Linked DNA regions of Homo sapiens. The protein of the gene in region 2 interacts with the protein of the main gene of each other region in a biochemical or structural test. Each region holds a gene or a part of one and is shown on either strand. Other genes may lie near its edges.

The links.
Region 1: of the proteins of FER (region 2) and TMF1, one has a biochemical effect on the other in vitro, tested with the Homo sapiens proteins (one study listed by BioGRID).
Region 3: of the proteins of FER (region 2) and NSF, one has a biochemical effect on the other in vitro, tested with the Homo sapiens proteins (one study listed by IntAct).

Annotation. Positions count from the first base shown.
Region 1 is NC_000003.12:69,041,322-69,050,158, forward strand, and holds part of TMF1 (TATA element modulatory factor), read right to left. Parts: intron 7,715-8,837; exon of another isoform or gene 7,637-7,714; intron 7,242-7,636; coding exon 6,037-7,241; coding exon of another isoform or gene 6,028-6,036; intron 3,275-6,027; coding exon 3,171-3,274; intron 2,556-3,170; coding exon 2,429-2,555; intron 1,592-2,428; coding exon 1,486-1,591; intron 1-1,485. UniProt on the Homo sapiens protein: Potential coactivator of the androgen receptor. Mediates STAT3 degradation. May play critical roles in two RAB6-dependent retrograde transport processes: one from endosomes to the Golgi and the other from the Golgi to the ER.
Region 2 is NC_000005.10:108,743,053-108,751,953, reverse strand, and holds the start of FER (tyrosine-protein kinase Fer), read right to left. Parts: upstream 4,058-8,901; 5' UTR 3,954-4,057; intron 3,007-3,953; exon of another isoform or gene 2,961-3,006; intron 1-2,960. UniProt on the Homo sapiens protein: Tyrosine-protein kinase that acts downstream of cell surface receptors for growth factors and plays a role in the regulation of the actin cytoskeleton, microtubule assembly, lamellipodia formation, cell adhesion, cell migration and chemotaxis.
Region 3 is NC_000017.11:46,634,844-46,643,680, reverse strand, and holds part of NSF (vesicle-fusing ATPase), read right to left. Parts: intron 6,306-8,837; coding exon 6,139-6,305; intron 3,628-6,138; coding exon 3,520-3,627; intron 3,039-3,519; coding exon 2,963-3,038; intron 578-2,962; coding exon 422-577; intron 1-421.

The sequences.
Region 1 (8,837 bases), on a different chromosome or scaffold from region 2:
GAACTAAGCCCCTAAAGGACAGAGTGTCATACTTATTATTGTATCAAACATAGTATCTGACATACTAACCGTTCAATAAATATTAGTTGAATAAATGAAAAAGTTGGATAAAGCTAACTTTCAAATGAAATGACTGCTTCCAACTGTTCTCAAACGCTACCCTTTCTCTGGAAATTTACTTAAGTTCAGTGATTTAAGCACAAAAACATTCATCCTACCACTAACTATATTATTAACATTATAAAAATAAATGTACAACACTAGAAATAGTAAAACATATTATGGTATACCCATATAATGGACTTTAATACAGCCACTAATAATGATAAAAAGCATTTAATGGCATAGAGAGATGTAAGAGAAGGAAGATTGGAAATTAAATATATGATCTTAAATATGTTTAAAAATGCATTAAAAAATACATTAAAACTAGAAAAAATTAATAGTTCCTTATAATATTGGATTATAATCTACTTTTCCTCTTTATTCATATACTTTCCTATAACTTCAAAACTTTCTACAAGTAGCAAGTATTACTCTTATAACTACAAAAACTTTAATTAACAAGAGAAATAAAAAGAGAGATTCACTTGACCACGTTTTCCAAAGGCTCCTCTCTCCCAGGATATTACATGAAGAAATTAATTCAGTATCCATTTGTAATGATTTATTTCATGAATAGATCTTTAATTTCTGTAATGCTATTAATTTTATTTTATTTATTTATTTTTTTGAGACAAAGTCTCACTCTGTCGCCCAGGCTGCAGTACAGTGGCGTGATCTTGGCTCACTGCAACCTCCACCTCCCAGGCTCAAGCAATCCTCCTGCCTCAGCCTCCTGAGTAGCTGGGATTAGAGGCACGCACCACCACCACCCGGCTAATTTTTGTATTTTTAGTAGAGACGGGGTTTCACCATGTTGGCCAGGCTTGTCTCGAACTCCTGACCTTAAATGATCCACCCACCTCTGCCTCCCCAAGTGCTGAGATTACAGTCATAAGCCACCACACTCAGCCAACCCTGTTTATTTTAAATCTTTTCAGAGACAAAAGTGCTTAATAATTTAAAAATTAATACAATGAAAAATTCACTATCAAATGTCAGAAAAAGACAATATCATACAGTACTTAAGCTAGGTATTCAGATATTACATAAATCCCAGAGTTACACACTTTGAATGTCTTGGTTTAAATGACAGGCTCTTAAGACCTGTTTAAAGTTTTCTTAGGGCAGCACAAATTTCTGTCTATTTTACAGGGACTTACTTTTCTTTTTACTTCCAAAAAACAAAAGCTAGAAACACGTATCTCTGTCTCAATATATCTTATTCCTCATTCTTCCATAAACTGTCACCTATTTCTATGGTTTACGTCCAAACCCTCCTTGCTTTCAGTATTTTTAATTAGGAAGCATCAGCTAGTTATGTGGCAAGTACTTTTCCTGTTCTTACAGTATTTTTCATAGTCAACCAAATACTATACGCACCTTCTTCCATTAACCCTCGGATCTGCTCATCTTTCTCTTTCAAAAGGTCTGCAGTTTCACTACTATTTAATCTAGTGGCAAGTTCTTCTTTTATGTTTTTGATTTCCTAATAAAAAAGAAATCTGTGAATACCGTAAAGAATGACTTTCACTCTAAGTACAGTTCTCATTTCTCCCCCATCCAAAGAAGCTGTCCATAATCACATTTGCAATAAGAATCTGTAAGTTTTGTTCAGTTAATCTACTACCTTGGTTAACTAAGACTAAGAAAACAACTTTGAAAATGATATTCAAAACCTAAATTCAGATATACAAGCAAGTGTTAATATGAAAATATAAATGAGAATAAATTAACTTTCCTTTTCATTTTTATTTTTATTTTTTGAGACAGGGTCTTACTCTGTCACCCAGGCTGGAGTAGTGGTACAATGACGACTCACCACAGCCTCAACCTCCCAGGCTCAGGTGATCCTCCCACCTCAGCTTCCCGAGTAGTTGGGACCACACGCATGTACCACCATGGCCAGCTAATCTTTGTATTTTTTGTAGAGATGAGGTCTCGCCATGTTGCCCAGGCTGGTCTTGAACTCCTGGGCTCAAGCGATCCACCCTCTTCGGCCTCCTGAGTAGCTGTGACCACAGGCGCACACCAGCATGACCAGCTAACTTTATGTATTTTTTAGTAGAGGCAGGGTCTCACCATGTTACCCAGGCTGCTCTCTAACTCCTGGGCTCAAGTGATCCGCCCACTTCAGCCTCCCAGTGTGCTGGGATTATAGACATGAGCCACCACACGTGGCCAAAAATCTACAATTTAAATGTTAATAGATGATATCCTTTTCACCTTACTTCTCTTTTTTCCAATATCAAAATACGATGAATGCACTCCTCAAAAATCTATATCTCTATAGAGTTTAATTAATATTACTTTAAATTTCAATTACCTTTTTAGCAGCATCTCTCTCTTTGCAGGCTAGTTGAACTTTCTTTTCTGCTTCTGCAATTCTTTGAGTAAACTCATCTTTCAAGGAAGAAATGCTACTGCTTTCTTCTTTCACTCTGAACATTTCACTAAATTTAAAATAATATTTGAGAATGAGGATGGTGTCTATATATCCCAAAGGTATACATGAGTTCAATTCTCAAAAGGAAGATAACTTTTCTCTGACATATACCTTATTAAAATAGAACAGTTTTAGGCCTATTAACTTTTAAGAAAAAAAAAGGAAATTTCCCTTGTTAAATTTATTTTAAAACACCTCAAAGAAAATCTGTTAGAAAGAGAAAATGTCACCAATATCTGACATGTAAAAATAAGAGAAGAGTAAATACAATGTTTCAATTCTGAATCTTCTTGTATCACATTTTCCCAATCAGCTCCTTATAGCACAACTGTGTTATTGATTAACACAGTTTTCTTCAAATACGTTTTAAATCTCTAATACTAAAAGACTAAAAACGAAAGGAAAGAGTTTTCCAGTTTTGCAAAATGACTCTCTTCAATGGCAAAGGGTAAAGACAATCAAAAGAGAAAAGTAATCTTTAGGGTTATAATTGAAAGCTATACAACTTTCAATAATGATAAAATTACAAAACATTTTAATTTCAAAAACATTCTTAAATATGTACAAAGTATACAGGTTTCCAGAAAATGTGTAACATTATTCACATTTGCAGAATACTTACTCTTTCAGGTTATCAAAAGCTTCTTCTAGAAGTGCTTTTTCCTTACTAAGAGATAATAACTGAGCCTCCCTTTTTTCCAGCTTTTCATTCAGAAATTCAACTGTCTGGATAAGGCGAATACATAAAAGTCAGAACGCTTAGCTTTAAAAAAGACCATTTTTACATGCAGGTGTATCACTGTAACAAAGAAAACAGCTTTATCTCATAAAAACAATCAAGAACAGTATTAGGAACACAGAAGATCCAGAACAAGAAGAACTCTTAGGCAGCTGAGAGGAGAGTAAAAGTAAATACAACCAAATAGCTAGTGGGAGTGTAAGTTGAGAAACCCCTTGAGAAAACAATTAGGCAATATCTAGTTGGGGATCTACATACTCTTTGATATAGAAAATTTCACTTTTAGGTATACCTTAGAGGAGAAAATTCTTGCATAAATGCACTAGGCGACATGTATAAGAATACTTTATGTAGCTTCCTGGTAATAGCAAAAATCTGGAATAATCTGCATACACACCAAAAGAAGAAGGGAGATGGATGCAATCAAAAGAGGTCAAAGAGGAAATTTAAAGCCTCTATATTTTAGCTAGGTGGTGGATACACAAGTGTCTATTTTCTGTATTATTCTTTACCCGAAACACATACCCTTTTTAAAATATGACATATTGCATTTAAAAAATAAAAGTAGGCCAGGCGCAGTGGCTCATGCCTGTAATCCCAGCACTTTGGGAGGCTGAGGTGGGGGGATCACCTGAGGTCAGGAATTTGAGAGCAGCCTGGCCAACACGGTGAAAACCAGTCTCTACTGAAAATACAAAAATTAGCTGGGCATGGTGGCAGGCACCTGTAATCCCAGCTACTCAGGAGGCTGAGGCTGGAGAATCGCTTGAACCCAGGAGGTGGAGGTTGCAGTGAGCCAAGATTCTGCAATGATCTTGCACTCCAGCCTGGGTGACAAGAGTGAAACTCCATCTCAAAAAGTAAAAATAAATAAATAAATAAAAGTAGAGGCCGGGCATGGTGGCTCATGCCTGTAATCCCAGCACTTTGGTAGGCTGAGGAGGGCAGATCACTTGAGGTCAGGAGTTCAAGACCAGCCTGACCAACACGGTGAAACCCCATCTCTACAAAAAATACAAAAATTAGCCAGGCATGGTAGCATACGTCTGTAGTCCCAGCTACTTGGGAGGCTGAGGCAGAAGAATCACTTGAACCTGGGAGGCAGACTAGCCTGGGCAACAGGGCAAGACTCCGCCTCAAAAAATAAATAAATAAAATAAAATAAAAGTAGGGCTGGACACGGGTTCATGCTTATAATCCCAGCACTGTGGGAGGCCAAGATGGGAAGACCGCTTGAGCCCAGGAGTTCAAGACCAGCCTGGCAGCATAGTGAGACCTCATCTCTACTAAAAATCAAAAAAATAGCCAGGCGTGGTGCGAGCCTATGGTCCCAGCTACTAGAGCGGATTAGGTGGGAGGACTGCTTGAGCCCAGGAGGTCAAGGCTGCCGTGAGCCATGATCGCACCACTGCACACCAGCCTGAGCAACAAAGAGAGACCCTGTGAGCCGCGATCGCACCACTGCACGCTAGCCTGGACAATAGAGAGAGACCCTGTCTCATTCATACATACATCCATCCACACTAAAAGTAATTTTAGAAAACCCATAAGAATTTTTAAATCTCCATAATGTATCAGTATAAAGCTAAACAAAAAGTAATGCTTGGAATGTCTAATTCCTTAGGTCCTACTCAAATGGTGATAAACTTGAGTATAAAAGGAGTAGGAAGGGTTCCTTTTTGGACTCAAAAAAATAGTCTTACCTGAGTTTGGTTTAGATGAACTTAGAAATCACTTACCTTCTTAAATACACTGAAATTCAAAAATATCTGATAGTAATTAGTGCTGGTTTCTAAGAATTCAAACTCCTATTATATATCTTACAGTATATAGCTATTACTAATTGAAATATTATTGCACAGCATTTTGTTTGTGAATATTTAACCTGATTAACAGAATCTGGCACTTTTTTAAAAAATTAAGTAATTCAATACATGGCACTTACAGGACATTTCTTCAAGACATCCTACATCTCAGAAGTCTATTAAAGATACCAGATCCAACTAAATTTGTATATCTAAAAGTCACAGTAAAAACCAAAACTAGGACTTAATGTCAAAGAATTTATATCACTTTCCTTTCACATGTATTAGGTAGAAGCAATCTGTCCCTCCTAAGCAATGCTTTTGTTCCTTAGACATTTCTCTTTCTCGTTCATGTGAAATATAGCTATCAATAGGAGATCTCAAAAATAACATAAGCAGAAAACAAACTGAAGCAATATAAGGATATATACTCCTTATATATGAATGAAAATACTAATAACAGAAAAGCACCAATAATTAAAATCTTAAATTATCATTTAATATTTGCTACAAATAATGTAAACATGTAAAAACAAATTCTGATACAAGAAAAACCATAACATTTAGTTTTTTTGGCACATCTATCTGCAAAGGAGGTGAAGATACATGTTAATGTAAGAAAATATTCCTTTCAAATTGACATACTAATAAGCATAACAGAATTTTGAAGTGATAAGGACTCAAAAATAAAGATGTAAGATGAAAACTTTCATGCTTAACTGTATTGAAGTATCAACTTATTCTACCATAATTGCCTTGGAGAAATTCCAAATTATATTAATAATTGTTCAACTTCAAGGTACTTAATGCTACACAGAAATGGCAAAATGCGTATGTTTTTAAATCTGTATAAATTATTATGCATCAATGAAAGTATTTTTTAAAACAAATGATTTAATCTCCAAAAAGCACATCTAAAAATCCCTTCCACTTACTAGAGTTACCTTGCAAACATCTTCCTTCTCAGAAAGTGCTTCTGGCTGACTTTCAGCAGGTTCACACTGCTCAGCCACCTTGTCTAACACAGTCTGTCCTTCATTTATTGGTGTGGAAGAAACCAAGATATCAGGCTGTTCACAGTTAACAGGAGTTGCACTTCGTCCACTTTCTTCCATTTCTGCTTCCTCAGTGGGTATAACTAATGTTTCATTTACTTCTTCAGATTTTCCTTCAGCAGATTCAACTGTTTTAGACTTTGGAGTTGAAGAATTAACTATAATAGGCACTAAAGCATATCCCTTGCCTGACAATTCATCATCTGAATTGATTTCACTTACACTCCGGCTATCTAATGACTGTACACTAAATGAGTCTATTCTTTCAAAAGCATCAGATGAACAGCAACTCTCAGTGAGTTTTTGGAAATCATCTAAACGATTATATTCAGGACAAGCAGATGCAGAGAGAAGCTGAAAAGATGTCTGCATCAAGTGAAGACTTGATTTTGAATCTGTAGTCTCTTGTCTCGAGCTCGCTGAGCTCTCACTTATTACACTTTCATGATCTAAAACTTCAATATCACTGGTGGTAGAAGTACCTGATGAAAAGGTACTAACAGGAGGAGAAGGTGTATTGCTCTGCCTGTCTTCATGTTTTTGTTCCTTAGGTTCCAAAGCTATGTCCTTTGTTTCTGCTGTGAGAGACTGCGTAGACGTATTAGATATACTTTCCATAGTTGTTTTCACATCAATTACACTTTCAGATACTTTCAAACTTACAGTTGGCACCTTCATATCCGATTCTTTATTAACAGTTTCTTCGTGCTTGCCTTCAGTTTTAGGTGATGAAGTACCTGCTGCCAGAGTTTCCCCTGAAACACACAAAGAAGAGTCTTTTACTTGTGATTCAGTTGTTTCAGGAGTTCTTGACTGGCCAATGTGCAAGGATTCATGTAAGCTGCTTTTCACTTCTTCTTCTGGTCGTTGTGATTTTGCTGGAGGTTTTGATACCACTGGACTCTTCTGAATGGTCTGGACATCAGTTGGCGAGAGAAAGGCACTGAAGAAATTTTCAGATTCATCGACCACAGTCCTCCGAACTGGCTTTGTGATTGCTTTAGGAGAGGCTATTGGTGGACTCTGAGGTTCAGTGTTTGATTTCAACCCCCAGGTTGAAGTATCCCATCCTCCACTGACAGGGGAACTTATTCCTTTAACAAAAAAGTAAATATTAAAAAAGAACACATATATGTTACATTAATATTTCAATCATCATTATAAATCAGTATAAATATAAATTTAGAAAAAATACCCTATGAAATACCTGTAATTTGCACCTGCTAAACTCCTTGCTTACTACATCATTAAGTAGTTTCCAAGTTAATACAGGGACTTACGGAAGAAAACTGGTGTGGGTCCACCTGAGAGGAAGGAGGAGCACAGACAAAAGACTGGGCCTGGCCTGGACTACCAGATGCGAGTATGTTATTCCTCCCCACAACAAATTAAGGAAGTAACAGTATATGTTTTATAACCCACAGTAAGTCCAAGATACCTATGATTCATCTCATAATAACACGCTTTACTTATCAATATGAAATAAACTAATATGGAACTAACTGAATAGGTTGGGCCATGTGCAGTCACAGAAAAATGACCCTACCTATTCAGTCAGTTTCATATTAATTTTTACTTGTAATATCAGTAATATAGTTATGAGCTAGACAAAGGGCAACACTCAAAAACTGAACTCAGTGGGTATGGAGGTTCACACCTATAATCCCAACACTAGAAGAGTCATTTGAGTCCAGGAGTTCAAGACAAGCCTGGGCAACATAGTGAGACCCCTGTCCCTACAAAAAAATTTTTTTAATTAGCTGGGCCTGGTGGCCCACATATGTGGTCCCAGCTACTCAGGAGGCTGAGGTGGGAAGATCATCTGAGCCCAGGAGGTGGAAGCTGCAGTGAGCCATGATCAAACCACTGCACTTCAGCCTGGGTGACAGATCGAGAACCTGTCTCGAAAACAAACAAAACAACAAAAGCCTCAAACCAAGATAATGGTGACAAATGTTCTTTCCCGAAGATCATATTAAACTGATGGGAATGGTAAGTTCTAGAGAACAAATTCATTTTCATCCACTTAATCACAGGCTGATTCTCTAAATCCCACTCTCCAAGCCCACTCTAAGAGGAAGTTTTGTTCTCAAATTCTAAATTATGTCAGAAATTACAAGGTCATTATAAATTTCAGAAATGTGTGTTTTTTTAAGAACTATTGCTCTTTGACATAGAGGTGGTTGACACTAGGGTTTTTAAAAAAGCGCTACAAAGAAAATGACTGTTTTCTTGGGGAAAAAGTTAATTATCATATCAGTCATACAAATAGCTACTACTAAAATCCTGATTTTTAAAAATGGCATAATCAGGATCTTAAAAATGGTATATTCGTTAAAGTATTTAAAGCATTTCTTTAAAAATGTTTTCTTTTTCAAATTAAAATGTGGCTGAACAAAATATTCACAAAATATTCACAATTAGAAGTTGGTGGAGAGAGCACAAGTAACTAAAAGCTTCTAAAAACTATCAAGCCTTATAGTAGAATCTATCCTTTAATATGACTTCAGGCCAGGCGCAGTGGCTCACGCTTGTAATCTCAGCACTTTGGGAGGCCGAGGCGGGCGGACCACCTGAGGTCAGGAGTTCAAGACCAGCCTGGCCAACATGGTAAAACCCTGTCTCTACTAAAATTACAAAAATTAGGCAGGTGTGGTGACGCAAACCTGCAATCCCAGCTACTCGGGAGG
Region 2 (8,901 bases):
CAGATTTAGGGTATGCAAAAACTAAAAAGCAAGATTCAAATACTTAAAAAGGTGTACACAAATTTCTCGGGTATAGAAAAATTACAAATATACAAATGTGTGAATTTATACCCATTTCCACTTATTCCTTTACTATAAATTGAAGTTTTATATCAAAATATTCCTCAGAACCATGAGACAACACCCAAGATCGTTGAGTCCTATCGAAATACTGACTTAAATTTCTCTAATTACGTCAGTCTCCATGAAGCAGTTCTACTAAAAAAAGTTCACCTTTGTAAGCTTTTTCCATTACAAAAATACATTCTTATTCCAAATGAACAGACATAAGATTGACCCAATTTATCAAGTTACCAAAATTTTACATAATTGATAGTCCCTTGGACTTCCCTCCAAAAGATGTTTATTTATAAATCAAGTACAAAACTATAATCTATTTACACAGGAGTCCAATTTTGAAGCAAAACGTTTTTTTGTATAACAAGTTCATCAGATTTCCTTTTGTCTGATTACCAAAATGCAGTTTACTTATTTGGGCCTTGATTACAAAGATGATGACTTCCTACCTCACTCACAAGATTGCTTTGAATAGTCTCATGTAATTAAGTTAGTATAGTTTTAGTAAGTACAATTCCCACTCACAAACAAAAATAAGCACCTTATAATTTGGTGGTGTGTATATACATGTATACTACATATACATGTATATACATATGCTGGGCTTTTTGTGGTTTTTTTGTTTGTTTGTTTTTTGTTTTTCTGAGATGGAGTTTCGGTCTTGTTACCTAGGCTGGAGTGCAATGGTGTGATCTCCACTCACCACAACCTCCGCCTCACGGGTTCAAGCGGTTCTCCTGCCTCAGCCTCCCGAGTAGCTGGGATTACAGGCATGCACCACCATGCCCGGCTAATTTTGTATTTTTATTAGAGACCATGTTTCTCCATTTTGGTCAGGCTGGTCTCGAACTCCCGACCTCAGGTGATCCGCCCGCCTCGGCCTCCCAAAGTGCTGGGATTACAGGCATGAGCCACCGCGCCCGGCCACATACGCTGGTTTTTTAAGCTTGATCATTTCAGTTCCTCTATTCCTTAATGTTTACTGTGTAACAGTGGTCTTGAAATCGTTATTGCTAAATATATAGGTGGTGGGTTCAACTCGACTCTTCTGCATTGTTTGAAATTTTTCATAGTAAAATAGTTGAGAAAAAACTGGCAAATTTGAAATGTTCACGGTCCAGAGTTACAGTAACATCTACATCGAAGATGAAATGTAAATGATTTGTCTACCAAAGCTTGAATTATTTCTTCTGAACTAAAGACATCAACCTTTGAAGCAGTGCAGAAGCTGCAACAACTTGACACTACATAGTTTTAGATTATGTATATTTAATGCTGTCAACAATCAATGCAGAAGAGAAACAGATCTTCACTAAAGGTCTTTCAAAGATGAAAACAGAAGTATGCCTATGTACTCTCTTAATATATTCCCAGCATCTTTGGAAGCATAATTCTCTTGGCTCAAAAGTACTAGCAGAAAAGCTTTCCTGGACTACAAAAAGATACACTCTGCTTTCCCGACTGACAAACCTGGAGCTACTCACAAATGTCTTCTTAAGGGCAACACAGGTATATATACCAGGACTACAAATACTGCACTAAAGATTTTGCAATAGTTTTTTTTTTTTATCCTATTCTCATTCCACATATGAATTGAAAAGTATTTTCTAATCTTTAATCACTAAAATAGTTTTGATCTATTCTCTTATTGATGTTCCACTACACTTTTATATATGGTAACCTCATCTGAGAAATTTATTATCTTAACATATCTGGAGAAAAGGAAAATGGAGTACACCTTTACAGCAGTTTATGTCAAAGTGATAGTGAGACAACCATTAATATACGCAACTTCTGAATTAAAAAGGTTAAAAAGCTGCTCTTTTTTTAACCATAAGGCGAAGGAAAAAAATGTAAGGCTACCAGCCGTAACAAATTATTAGATTTTGAATTGCACTACAGTGGATGGCAAAATCGCAAACGTACAAAGTGCCCACCTCATAGTACAATCCTCAATTTGTTTAAGAAGTACCTTGCCCCTACCAACACAACCCAATGAGCGTATTCAGAAAGTAGATCCTAGGGGTAACTGTAAGGCAGAAGGATGACCCCTGAAGGTGCCTCCAAACATCTCCCCAATTCTAACTGGCAAAGAGACCACAGAGCAGAAATTACCGACGACACCACTAGCTTCACACTTAAGATCTATCTCTTGATTAGACTCTTGGAGGACACCTCTGGCCAAGACCGGAGGAGAAAGATGAGGTGGGGGATAAAAGCGGGAGAAGGTGACAGATAGGAGGAGAGCTGGGGAGGACCGAGCGGGTCAAGGGAGACTGCGGGGCTCCAGAAGCAGGAAGGGATGGGGGGAATACCAGGGGTTGAGAATGCCCCCGTAGCGGGACGGCGGCGCCCAGATGAGTGCCGCCGAGAAAAGGGGTGAGGGTACAGGCAAGATTGGGTGGTGCCCACAGTCCCCCCACCACCCCGCCTCACGCCCATCAGCCCCCAGACCCCGCGACGGGGCGGAGCCACTACGCCCGCCACAGCCCTTTCGCGCCGGCACCCGCCCCCTCAGCCTTCGGGTCCCGGGATGGTGGGAGGGGCGGCCCTCGTGGGGCTGGGTGTGTAGCCCGGCCCAAGCCCCAACCAGGAATGCTCTGCTGCGGGCGGGAGGATGAGCGGATGACCCTGCAGCCAGGGACGGGGGTTGGGGGGGGCGCTGGCTGAGGGCGGAGGAAGAGCCTCGGCACAGCCCCCAACGCCCTGGCCGAATCCCGGGCGCCCCTCTGCGGGCAGGCATTGTTGCCCCCGCTCTAGGCTTGCCTTCCCTCCTCTTCCCCCCTCCCCCCGCGTTGCCCCGGGCAACAGCGCCTACCGCCGGCGGCGCGAAACGCACCTACCTAGAACCTGACAAGCCCGAACCCCTCAGACTCCGGAGCCAGTCACCACCCCGCGTCACGGGGGCTGCCACAGCCAATAGGCGCCACTGTCACGAACCTCTGCAACCAATCCCGCTGCACTCCGGTCTCCGGGCACCCTCGAGGCCTCAGCCAATGGGCAAGAGCGGAAGGCGGGCGCAGCCGCCCGGCCCTCAGCCCCCTCCTCCACTACCTCCCAGGAGGCGGGGAGCGGCCGATTGGCCCGGTCCCCGAAGGGGCAGGACTTGGGCCCTAGGCTGGGTGGGCGCACGCTTAGCCCAAGCTGCGGGCCCTGGGAGTGGAGACGCGGAGCTGCGGTCGCCGCTTTCTGGGCTCGCTCACCAGCCCGGGTGGAGTCCCGAGGTCTGCGCGTTTGTGCCGCTCTCCCCGCCTCGGTAACCTGCTCCTCCCTAGCGGGTGTCCTGGGCTGCCGTGGTGAGATGGGGCCGGAGACGGACGAAGGCCTCACAGGAAACTTTGGGAGGCTCGCCTGGCCGCGGCCGGGAAGTGGCCGGACCGGCGATGATAAGCTGAGGCCGCCTGGAAGGGACTACTCGGCGGGTCGGCAGCCGGAAAGGAATTCGGAGAGTGGGGGCGGAGGCGTGATTAAAATGTTAAGTGTGCCCGGAGGGCGCTGGGCGATCCCTGGAGCTGAAATCTCCGGGAAGGGAAGCTGCTTTAGGGCCGCGAGGCCCCCACCCCTAAAATAGGCACTTTTCAGCCTCAGAATTGGTCACTTTTTCCTGTACGTTCCCACGTTTTACTTGTATCTGTTATTAACGTGGATTGCTTTAGAATGGTTTTCAGCAACTCCAGTTTACTCTGAGTCCCTTAAGGACGGGAACTGTCTTTCAATCCTGTACTCCCAGTGCCTGAGCCTGCCTAAAAATGTTAGAAACTCAATGCTGGAATTGTAATGGATGTTTAAAAGCATACAGCAGGTCCTGGGAGTGGCCCCCTATAATAAATTCTTACCTCTTCGGGAGTCTAGAATGCGTGGAGAACCCAAACGGGTCTGCTCTTCAGTGATGGCCGTTTCTGAAGCGTCCTTCACCAAAAGAATTTGGTGAAAAATGAGTAATGTGAACTACAAGATTATTACTAGGTGATCAGTAACAGTAGGATAGGTATGCGTCATTATTCGAGGGTGTGACCCTCCCATGTTCCTGTAGTAGACTTTTTAAGGCGGTGTTATCTTTTGCATTGGTTGAACCACATAGCGTCAATCCGGTATTTCCCCTCCCTCTCAAAAACTGAGTTACATAGGAGCCAAAGAAGAGTGGTGAATATTTTCTCTAAGCAGGGTTATTTATTTAACCGTAGAGAACAGCCCTACACATAAAAAAACATAAATCTTAAGTTGGACTTTTTTTAAGTCTACTGTTTTAAAGCTAAATAAACAAAAACCAACATAAAAATTTTAAATAAGAGGCTTAATTCTCCCTATTGAAAATGGAGGATGAGATTTCCCGTCCCTTTCTCTCCGAGCATTTGTCTTAGAAAACTTAAGTACTTTCTTAATTGTTAAGTACTTTCTCAACTCTTTGAAATGTGTATAAATCCACTTGAGGACTAGATAGGTCTTGTCAACTGTATGCTCAGTCAGGAATGTCTCTGGACCTTTTTTTTTTTTTTTTTTTTGAAATGCTGCACATATCAACGGAGTAGCATCCTTCCCTATCTCCCAGTTTCTGTGAGAGAGTAGGAGCGTAACTTCGGTGAGCAACTTGCTCCGTGTTGCAAAACTACCTTCCGTCATAAAGACAGGAGAAGTTTGTTTTTCCTCTGGATAAAACCAATTAACTAACACAGATGGTCACCCCAATTATTAAGTAAAGTTAATGTCACAAATGTCAGGTCCTCTTACTTGAGGACTAGTTATTGTTCAACTTGAAAACGTGTATGTAATGGGTCGTATATACTTGGCTATACAAAAGGGCAAGATTTCTGTCTTTGCAATCTCTTAGCAAATTGCCTGTGATGTGTATCACAGTCTCGTTTAATGCTTATTCAGTAATAAAAGTGTTTTGTCTACTAACGTTTGTGGAGAGGATTTCTGGGTTGGGAGATTTTGGTTTTTAATTATATTTTTCCAACAATGCCTATACCCAGAATGTTGGGATGACAAAGTTAAGGAAAGTAGTTACTTCGGAGTTTTTAAATTGTTCTCTAAAATGATGGTTAATGTTTCATATGTATTTCATAGTGATTGTTAAATGCACAAACTGTGGTTCTGTGAGTAAACTTCTTAAAATAGAAGTTAATTTTCTGTGAACATCAAATGTTATAGTATATGTAATGTCAATAAGAATGAAATGAATGAAAATTTGGTTAGGTAAGGCCAAAATACAACTTTGGAGACTGCTTCATGACTGAATACCTTTCCCAAGAACCTTAGAATTTCTCCATTTATACAAAGGGAATCAAAATGTAGAAAGATGTGGTTGGTGAATACGTTATTACATATTTGCAGAAAGTAGCTTTCAATAAAGATATGGTAGAAATAGAGCTGTTTGATACACAACATGTGTGTTTGTGTTAAGGAACCCAAATCTAGAAAAATCAGCAAGAATCTTTCCATATCTACAATTGTTCTCTGAGTTCTCACCTATTCATTCCAAAACCTTAAAAGCTGTCTACCATATGCCAGTCATTGTGCTAGGAAATGCAGTTGTGAAAGAATATACTTGAAGTAAATGAATGTGGCAAAAATCTATGCTGCATTTTTGAAGCATACAAAAATATATAGCAAATCCAGTTTCACATTTTTTTCCTCTGTTGGAATTATCACATTGCATTGCAACACATTTAATAAACACTGTGTGTCACCTTAGTATATATTCCATGTTCTCAAATACCAAACTTTGTCTGTTCTAATAGCATTACTTACTGGACAATGAAAATAATAATGTGGACATCAAACCTAGGTGGGTAATAAAAAATGATTGAAAAGTTTTTTACTTTTTTTGATTAGCACCATCCATGCCTCACCCCATCTCTCCACCTCCCTTTTTTCCTGTTTAAAAGTATAGACTGCAAGAGGAATCTTGGTTGTGTGCCATCTTAGTTCAGTAGTTCCAATACTTACCCCTCCCTCCTTTTCTTCATCTGTGTCTCTTTTCTGCCAACTCCTTTGATTTGTGACTCTCTGCTTTCTAATCCACAATTCATACCTATCCACAATTCATAACTAACCATACACACATACTGCTCCTAAAATAGAGATCATGATGAGGTATGCAATATGGAAACCATATCTATCCTTATTCTATACATGCTGCAGTGTTTGTTTTCAGTGGATATATATTTTTTTCTTTTTGAAAATTGTTCTCTTGAATGAATACTGTTCCTAGAGGTCACATTTGTGTGAAATTTTCTTTAGGACTGTTTTGGCTTTCCAAATTTCAAATTTTCAAAATGGCTTAATCATTTCCTTTATTTTTTGAATCTGTGTTAGGAAAATAGCAGAGTAGTTGGAGGGGGAGGGAAGAAAAGAAAATGAAGTAGACTTGAAGGAAGAAAACATCCATTCTGTCTTCAAACTAGATGTCAAATGTATTAACACCATCTCCCAACCATCTTTCCCAGCCAGCGGGTGGCCATCCTAGTACTCTAATTAATATTGGTTCTCCTGCTTCCCTGACCTGCTCTCCATTAAGAAATCCACCAACATTCGTAATCAAGACATGCCTTCTCCAAAATGCCCCTGGATCACTAAAGGCCTGTCCCTTTTTAAGCCATCCTTTTCTCAGATTTTTTTTTTCATTTCTTTTTTAAAACAGAGTCTCACTGTTACCCAGGCTGGAGTGCAGTGGTGTGATCTCAGCTCACTGCAACCTCCGCCTTCCAGGTTCAGGCTGTTCTCCTGCCTCGGCCTCCAGGGATTACAGGCATGTGCCACCACGCTCAGCTAATTTTTGTATTTTTATTAGAGACAAAGTTTCACCAAGTTGGCCAGGCTGGTTTCGAACTCCTGACTTCAAGTGATCCACCTCTCTCGGGCTCCCAAAGTTCTGGGATTACAGGCATAAGCCACCGTGCCCGGCCTTTTCTCAGAATTGACCTGTCCTTTTCCTCATCCCCTTATCCCTGGTTCATTATGGCTTCAGAGTTAACTGAAAAATGTGTGTGCCTGTGTAACAGTGCTGTAATAATGAATTTATATGTGTGATATTATCAGAATCACCTGAGGATCTTTTCAAAAATAGACTCCCAGATTAACTCCCAAAGATTCTCACTTGGAAAGGCAAAAAAGTTCAGGAAAGTCTGTATGTTTGGCATGAGACCAGTGAATTATTCAACATGGTGTGTTGAACTCAGGCATTTATCTCTGCTCTGTCCTGAAAATCCTTGATATAACATAAACACAGGTCCAGGTGCCTCAGCCTCCTGAACAGCTGGGATTACAGGCATGTGCCACCACACTCAGCTAATTTTTGTATTTTTATTAGAAACGGGGTTTCACCAAGTTGGCCAGGCTAGTTTCAAACTCCTGACCTCAAGTGATCCACCTCTCTTGGCCTCCCAAAGTGCCTAGGTCCAGGCCTAGGGATCTCTGAGGGGGCATGGTTGAGAAAAGAGGCTGTAAACAACAGGATTGCTTGACAGTCTGTAAAAGGAGTAGGGAGACCCTACTTGCCCCATCAAGATCACTTCCCCCACCAAGCAGCTAGGTTAAAACACTACTCTACCACAATCCAGAGACAACAAGGTTTACTCCTTGGAGTCATTAGAGAAGCTCAGATCTTGAAGATACAGAGACAGCTGAATATTACCTAGGAGAAAAGTGCCTACTGCACATTGGGGTAAAGGGAATACATGAAAGTCTACATACTAAACTGTGAGACTTATCCTCCAAGCTCCCATAATGACTGTATTCAGGTTCCTGTCCCTCAGAGAAGACCTTAGAGGATTCCTTTTTAGGGAAATTGACTTGCCTGAGGAAAAGTATTTTTATAACTAGTGAGTACTGAGGGTGTGGGGGCGGGGGGATTTTCCAAAATGTACAGATTCCCTGCCTAATCACGTCAAAAATAAGGTCTGCCAATCCTTAAAGAAATGAAAACAGGAGGCTATTTTTCTAAAGAAAAATTCAGAGAGAGAAACGAACTTTGAAAAGTTAAAAAACAAATTAAAATTCAATAGCAGATGATAAAATGAAATTGAGAAGTCTCAAAATAAAAACAAAAAGACAAGCAGTTGAAAAATATGAGGAAAAAAATGTAGGATCAATTCAGGAGATCAAACATCTAATCTATAGAAAGAAAAAAGGAGACGGGGAGAGGGGGCAAAATTAGCAAAGAAAGACATTTCCCCAGTACTGAAGGACCTGAGTTTCCAGATTGAAAAGGATCTGATGAATGGCTTGCAAAATAATGAAAAAGACTCACACAAAAGCACTTAATCCTAAAATGTCAGAACAGCTGAGATTTTTTAAATTCCCTAAATGCTTCAGATAAAATAACAGAATGCAGACAAAAGAACAGACATGAGAACAGAGAAAGGCATTGGACTTCTTAACAATGATACTGAAAACTAGAAGAAAATTGAGCAATATCCTAAATTCCAAGGAGAGATCATTTACAATCCAGAATTCCCAATAAAACCAACAATCAATGAAGTCTAATTGTAGAATAAAAGTATTTTCAGACATGCAAGATCTCAAAAAGTTTTATTTCTATGAAATCTTTTCTCATGAAGGTACTTAAGGGTGTTTTCCACCAAAAAGAGGGCTTAAAATAAGAGAGATTGTGGCAGGACAGGTCTGACTAGCATAGGCCTCTATAACAACTGTTTCAGTACTGACTGAGTGGTTAAGTTAAATATTAAAAGCCAGTGCCCTTATACAAAGGCTGAAATGTAAGAAAAGCCCACCAAGAGTTTTGCCTAGGCCTTTCCTGGGCCTTAGAACATGACAAAAATA
Region 3 (8,837 bases), on a different chromosome or scaffold from region 2:
ATTATTCAGCAGGGTACATCTGACCCATAGTGATCTTTAGAGTCAGGTGAACTTTCTAAATATGCCCTATAGAAAAACATTCTTACGCAAATAAATAAATAAAATGGAGTCACTACTAGTATTATTACTGTCAGGGGAAGTTTCTAAATATGCCCCATAGAAAAGCATTCTTCAATAAATAAATAAACAAAATGGAGCCACCACAAGTCTTATTTCTATGATTTCCCCATAAAATTAAAATGTAATTTTAAAAGTTCTGGTATTATAAAGTTTTTCAGAAAATTTATCTGTTCATTTTTAAAGAAAAAGACAAAAATAATGGGTCTGAAAAATAATTTCAAAACTATTGAAAAGAGATTCTTCATTGCATTAATTTTTTTAACAACACAAGATTTTATAACATTTTCCTTTTTAAACTTACCCATCTGCTCCACAATCTCTGGAGGAAATACTCGGGAAGCAAATGCTCGTCGGAAAATATCTGAAAATTCCTTGTCTAGACCTCCTATTCCCATTTTTTCAAAGTTCCAGTCAGGATTGATAATTGATTGGCGATTTTCCTTGGTTTTAGCTTTGCCTATGTCAAACGAATATTATCAAATGTGAAACAAGGACTTTATCACTAAGTCTAAAAAGACAGACAGAACTCCCTGAGCATCCTAAATGAATAAAGAAAAGCTACCCTTACATATACAAAACGAACAATATAATCTTAGCTGATTTTACAGTCAGAAGGGTAAGTTTTGCTATGCTATCTACTTTGTCTGATCTCCATATATGGTAACACACTGTCAAAATGACTAGCTAAACTTATGCTGTAGTCTATTTGTATCAGTCCATAAAACTTAGTTTTATTAACCTTCAATCTAACTAAATTAACTAACTCGGTTGATCAGAAGAAATGCCATATCTGATGAAGACAACACTAGCTGGCAGAAATGCAACTGAAATCTCGCAGTCACTGAAGTCTCCTAACGCAAGTTTATTTTAAAATACATATATTTATCCAGATTAAGCTTATACAGGTAATTGGGCATATAACCCCTCAGCCTAAGGAAATATACTGAACAAGTTTGATGTCTTCTTTGCTTTCTCTTCACTTGGACACAAAAGTCTGAAATCATCCTAAAGACTTCAATGATTACAAAACTCATGTTTAAAAATTCTCAAGAGGACAAAAATTATCTAACTTAAATGTCAGAGTGCCACCTAAAGTAACTCAAGAGAACCACATTTACTATTTCAAACAAAGAATAAATTAAGTACCTTAGTATGCTCTATTATAAACAAAAAATAAAGTAATAATATGGTTTTTATAAAACCAGGGAAGAAAATGTCACATTAAAAAAAGTTTATCCTAAGAAATGCTAAATATTTGAGGTGATATGTTAATTAGGCTGATTTGATCATTCTACAATGTATACATGTATTAAAATATCAAATTGTACCCTATAAATATATACAATTATTATCTGTCAATTAAAAATAAAGTAACGCTTTTTAAAAGTTTATACTAGATGATAATTTTATGGTTAGAGTTTTGAGGCCTTAAGATTTCCTTTGGAAAGCGATGAAAAATATTTTTTTCTTACACTCTACTGCCCTCTTGTGGGCAAAATTTACTGAATGCCAATTAACTACACAATTTTTTTCCCATGGATTACTTAGAAATACCTATGAAAGTTATGCAACTCCCTTGGGATATCTTAACAAAAGGTACACAAAAATAAAATACAAAGAAGTCACTTCATAAATGTACTAGATCAATAACAGGAAAATACATCCTACCTTCATAAAATGACATACAGGCATTAAAAATCATGTTATAGGTGTATATTTAAGATGTTTGAAACATGCTAAGCAAAAAAAGCAAATTACAAAACTATGAAAACAGAACCAAATTTTACAGTGTGTGAATTGTTTTCGAATGCCTATCCATATTTTATAAATAAAATATTTTATAATTAACAAAAAACAATAAGGGGGAATGGTAATTTGTGGACCAGGAAATAAAGGCCACGCACTCAAAGACTGTTAAGTGACCCTGGACATGATGATGTGCAACCAATGAAAACCCTCTACTCTCTAGTAGGGTAGACATCAACATAGTTAAATCAACCAAAAATAAGAATTAATGCCCAGTTAATGTCACATTATTCTGGTGAGTTACTATTCTCAGAGAATAAGCTGCAATTGTTTTAATATGACAAAAATTGTGCTAGAGTACAAGAGTAGGACTGAACCATGAATCTGCTGGGAAGACTTGACCTGCACATTCATCACTTAATCACTAAAAGAAATGATGATGCTATCTCATTTAACACAAAACCAAGTGAGGGGCATTCTACAAAATAACTGACCAGTTCTCAAAGTCATAAAAGACAAAGTCTGAGGAACTGTCAGTGACTGAAGAAAACTCAAAAGACAGAACAACTAAATGCAATATGGGATCCTAAATTAGATCTTGGAACAGAAAAGGACACAATGGAAAAACTGGTGAAATCTCAATAAAATCTGTAGTTTAGTTAGCAGAAATGAAACCATGTTCATTTCTTATCATTGTACTTTTGAAAATGTCAAATAAGACATTAACATCAGGGTAAGCTGGTAAAGGGCATACAGAAATTCTCTGAGCTATTTCTGCAAATCTGTGAACCTAAAATTATCTCAAAATTAAAAGTTAAAAAATTAATTTGTTTCTTATTTTAGTGCAATTTCTAGGAAATTAAAAATTACACATGTGGCTCACACTCTATTTCTATTGGACAAAGTTGATCCAGATGAAGGTTTTAAACGTTTTCATCAGCAAACTGACCAACAGGAAATACCCCATGCTTCTGTGATAAACTCTCTCAAGAGAGATGCCCCTCTTTCCTTTCCCCATTTGGAAATCACTGTAGTTGAGTTACATATAGAAATAGGCCCACTTCATTTCAAATCTTCTAAAAACTGTAAATCTTACCAATAAGATTAAGTGACGAATTTTCTGCTTTTTCAAATGCAACTTGACTGTTTCCAACAACCAGTCCTACTTCAATCTGTAGAGAAAGACAATAATTAGTAGTCTAATAGCAAACTTCTGGACTTCTCAAAGCAAGGCCAAAAGTGAGGGGGAAATGAGGTCTCTCTGGGCAAAGCAAACCTTCCAGACTATCATCTGAGCTACTTTTACTTTTCTCATAACTTTCTTCTACAATTCTTACATGCCTTATTTCCATGCCTATATCTTTCCAATAATGCGTTTCTTATTATTTATTTACAATAAATATCTGCATTCAAGCAAATTATATGTACATATACGTCTACATTTTACATTAATATTAGGTCTGCAAATAAATACATTTTAAGCTATATTTTAATAACAATGATGGCTATGAAAGCAATTTTTTCTCCCTACTATCTTAAAAGGGTACACAATATGAAAAAAATCACTAAGCAACAGATAGGAAAATTATAATCAATCTGCACAAATTACATTATAAAGATGATCTAGTAAAGATGATCAGAAATAAAAGCTACCTTCTGCCTTTTCCCTGTCGCAGGCTCTCCCTTCAGGATGCTAGGATCCATGGCTTCAATGTCCTTCACCAGTAAGCCAAAAAGCTTTTCATTGAAGCTAAAGACAAGCTATGTAGAAAAGAGGTAAGGGGAGAAAAATCACTTCATAATATAATAGTTTGATCCTCAGATCATCACCAATGTTTTTCAAATGCAGAAAACCAGTTTATCTTATATACTCCTCTCCAATCTGCTCCTCAAACAAACTACTCACAGCCAATGAAGAAAAGGGAATTAGCACTTACGATCAGTGTTTACAAAATGACTGCAAAACTCATGTTTAAAATTTCTTCCACATGGATAAAAAATATCTAATTTAAATGTCAGAGTGCCACCTAAAGTAATTCAAGAGTACCACATTTACTATTTCTAACAAAGAATAAAGTTTCTTAGTATTTTATTCAAACACTACAGCCAGTTATATAATATTCACAAACACTCTTGGAAGCAGAAACTACGACTCCATTTTACTAGTGAGGAAGCTGAGATGCAGAAACAGGCTATGCAACAAGGCTCAAAGTCACAGTAAATGAGAGCGCCAGAAGTCAACCCTGGGTCTGTGACTCTACAATTCCTGCTTTTCTATCACTAGTACAAAATGCTTGCCCTACAAGTGCAGAGACAGCTTCTGAATGCTCAATTACTCATTCACCAAATCTTTGCTGAGTCCCTTCTAAAAGTTTGGTCTTCTTCTATGTGCTGGGGTATAATGGTAAATATTACAGGTTGGGCTGTCTGTCCATTCTGCTACTACGAGATACCACAAATGAGAAGAAACAGTTAAGGACAGTGATCTGGAGTAAGATATTTACTTCTTCTCTGAATTACGAAAGATTCTCTTTCATGGATTTACTGACTTCTACATGCTACTGAGTTTTAAATTATTATAAATACCAAAGCATTTTCTATTAAACATTCTCCTAAACATTTTCTATTAGGATACTAAAACTAAAAGCAAAGGTAAAAACCATCAAGTTTAGCTAGGCAATCTGAGCACAATTTTGGTCATCCAATACACAACAGCACCGCAATAGCTCTCTGGTGAATTGTCCTGATCTACTTTCATCAGAGACCTAACTGTACATGGTATTCCTGTCTTATTTTCTGTTTTCTTCAACTAGAAAGTAAGTTCTATGACAGCAGGGATCATATCTATTTTGTTCACTGCCGATCTGCAGTGTCTAAAACAGTGACTGGTACTAGGCACTAGGTACTATCAAATATGTGTTTAATTAATTCTTATCTCAACTATGTCCCTTAGCTGTGTAGCCATGGGCATACCATTTACCTTCTTTAGATCTTAAATTCCTCATTTGGCCAGGCGTGATGGCTCACACCTGTAATCCCAGCACTTTGGGAGGCCGAGGTGGGAGGATCACTTGAGGTCAGGACCAGCCTGGCCAACATGGCAAAACCCCATCTCTACTAAAAATACAAAAAAAAAATGGTTGGGCATGGTGGCTCATGCCTGTAATCTCAGCACTTTGGGAGGTCAAGGCGGATGGATCACCTGAGCTCATGAGTTCGAGACTAGCCTGATTAACATGGTGAAACCCCATCTCTACTAAAAGTACAAAATTAGTCGGGTGTGGTGGCGCATGCCTGTTATCCCAGTTACTCGGGAGGCAGAGGCAGGAAAATCACTTGAACCCAGAAAGCGGAGGTTGCAGTGAGCTGAGATGGTGCCGCTGCACTCCAGCCTGGATGACAGGGTAACACACCATCTCAAAAAATAAATGAATAAATAAATAAAATTTTAAAAAATAAAAAAATAAAATTCCTCATTTGTATATGTGGAGTTACATAAGGTAATCTCTTGAGGTTCATTCCAATTCTAGTACTCTTTTTAAAATAATGTACTATATCCTTTTCCTATCTAGCAGGAATTCAGTTTTTTAAGATTCTCAAATAAGCCCATAACCAAAATAAGAACTTTTTTTTTTTTTTTGAGACAATCTCGATCTGTCACCCAGGCTGGAGTGCCGTGGCACAATCATGGCTCACTGCAGCCTCAACCTCCCAGGCTCAAGCCGTCCTCCCACCTCAGCCTCTTGAGTAGTTGAGACCACTACACGCAGCTACTTTTAAAAAAATTTTTGTAGAGACAGGGTCTCACTTTGTTGCCCAAGCTGATCTTGAGCTCCTGGGCTCAAACGATCCTCCCAACTCAGTCTCCCAAAGTGTTGGGATTACAGGCATGAGCCACCATGTCTGGCCAAGAGCTACATTTTCTACAGAACTATATTAGTGAAAGAGACAGACATTCCAGAGGCAAAACAAATGTCCTATGATATAAAAAGGAATTTCAGATATATATGTCCACAGGGTTCCCAAATTTGCTGAGGGAAAAGCTGCTATAATTATACATGACATTTTAATCTAAAAGCTACTTTAGAATTTTTCTGAACAGACTCCTTGAAGTTCAGTAAATACATCTCCCTCACTTTTATCACTCACCTTGGATATACGAGTTGATACGCAAAGCCCCTCTCACTTTTTAAAAGGTGGAATTAATTTTGGAAAACTGCAGAAATTAGAATACCTATAAAGTTAAAGGAATGAAAGAAAATTAAAAACTACCTGTTGTCCCACTGAGAAGGCCTGGTTGTTGAATTGCTGAATAAATTCTGCTGCCATCTTGTCGGTGTCATAAGGGTTGGAGTCAATGCTTTTTTTCTGCAGGAAATCAATCTCGATGGTCATTGTGCCAATACACTGTTTGGCTTTGTCAAATGTATATAAGGAGACTAGGGGAAAAAAAGAAGCATTTTTTTAAAAATCACAGGAGTACAAAATACCTGTAGTGTTTCTAGTAACTAAAAGTTTCACATAAATGAATCATAAACTACTTCACCAAAAATGGGGTTTAAATGGCCTTCACTGGAGGGACACACAGGTACAGGTTTAAAAAATAATAGTCACTAGAGATTTTCTTCCCCATCTGAATTAATTAGAAATACTGAATGGCAGGCCGGGCGCGGTGGCTCACTCCTGTAATCCCAGCACGCTGGGAGGCCGAGGCGGGCGGATCACGAGGTCAGGAGATTGAGACCATCCTGGCTAACACAGTGAAACCCCGTCTCTACTAAAAATACAAAAAATTAGCCGGGCGTGGTGGCGGGCGCCTGTAGTCCCAGCTTCTTGGGAGGCTGAGGCAGGAGAATGGCGTGAACCTGGCAGGCGGAGCTTGCAGTGAGCCAAGATCACGCCACTGCACTCCAGCCTAGGGCAACAGAGCCAGACTCCGTCTCAAAAAAAAAGAAAGAAAGAAATATTGAACGGCAGTCTCTCTGTTGTTATCCCTCATCCCACTCTTATCAGGATCACAATCCTCCCCACATGGCCTCTGCATCTTTCTCCTCATTTAATGCAATACAGTATGGGATGCCCCAACACAGTTGGCATAACATGCTATTTCCAAATAAGATTTTTGTTTGACACAAAAAAACAGCTAAGGTGGGATGTGGATGAATTATTTTGGCCTAAGAAAGTAGGACGCAAGGCAAAAAAAAGAAGCTTGAAAAACAATGTTTACTAGCGGAATTTGCTCCAGAGCAAGTTAGAGTTTGACATTTCTTTTTTACTACTACAAAAATGTTTCCTGAGCACCTGCTACATCTAGGGAACTACAGTAAGTTCTACATGTACACATGTAGATAAGGGCAAGGACGAGGTTTTTAACTCCTCTTCCTATTAACAGCATCTAACAGTTTCTTTCAGGTGCTTAATATATTCATGAACTGTTTAAATGAAACAACAATAACAGAAAACCCATGGTCTCCATGCTAATAACAAAGGAGGCAATAAAGCATACATACAAAGCTTTGGATAAGAAAATTCCTGTTCAAGCCACATAAAAAGTTTTAAAATGAATTTTAGGTTACAATGTAATTAATATTAAAGTGTTACACATGATTTTACATCATGTAATAACTGTTCGACCAAAAACCTTTAATTGTACAACTACAACACAGTTTACATATCATATTTTTAGAAAAATATATGTTAAAACAAATTTTGCTAGTGACAGATAATTACAAAGAAGCATTTCCCTAGAAAAAAAAACTTGATTCTTAAATCAGCTCAAAAAGTATACTTATAAATGCCAGTTTATAAACAAACTTTTAAAGCAAAAAATTTTACAGTGCTGTATACTGTAGTGGTACTATTAGGAAAGAGTAGAGTAGGCTACCCAGAAAAGTTCAAGAGGATTTTTGCATTTGAGTTTCCCCAGGAGGGCAACTTGATTACGCCTAGTAAGAAAGAGTCTATTGCTACTCTTCAATAAGGCTTCACACACGAGCACACACACACACACACACACACACACACACACACACACACATTTATTTTCCCTTTAGGTTCCCTGAAGATACTTGTCCTAAAATTTACCAATGGCCCCTTAAGGATACAGTAGCAGCTCTCGTAAGCAACCTCCACTGAGCTGAGTCATCAGAAAGCTGACCAACTTTTATCCCTCCAACATATACCCATCAGCCTATGGTTTGCCTAACGCTCAGAGCTTGTAGACAGGAGTTGCTACACATCATGGGTCAACCAAGTTCATTCTGGTATCTGTCTGTGCTAGTTACACTTGTTACAGTTAATTATGAAATATAATTAAATAGTATAAAAACTTCTGAAGGCCTGGTTGTTGAACTGTTATTACAATGACTTTGACATTCTAGAATAGATATTATAAGTTGAAAGCTTTGGGAAAATTTTTTAAATGAAGTGTTTCTTCTAGAAAAAAAAAATACTGCTAACTAGGTATAAGCATTAAAATTAGAAAAGGTTGGGAGTGAACTCTACAAAAATCCAAGAGGTTTTGGCACTCTCAGATGCTCTACAAAGTCTAAGTTCTCCAGCCATTTCAAAGAAATCCACCTGGAAATTATGGGTAAAGTGTATGCACAAAAGATAATACAGAACTCCAATCCATGGACCACACCTCCAAGAAAAAGCCTTTAACCAACTTTTCACTTAATTACCAGTCCAAGTCACATTGGGTAAGTGAGCTTCTACAGTTCTCACCACAAAAGCAGGTTATAAACAAAGACTGTTTTTTCACACTTGCTTTGAACAACAGGCATGGCATTTCTGTGAGTTACTGAGGTCAAATAGCAAGAGGTAAACAAAAGAAGTCACTGTGCAGTATTAAATGTCTGTTGCAAAGATTCTAGTGGTTTACAAACAAAGCTGTTTTCTTCAAAGGGACTTTGAGTATGTGTGTTTCAACAGATTCTGCTAGCAATCAGAAGAATCCAAGTAAATAATTT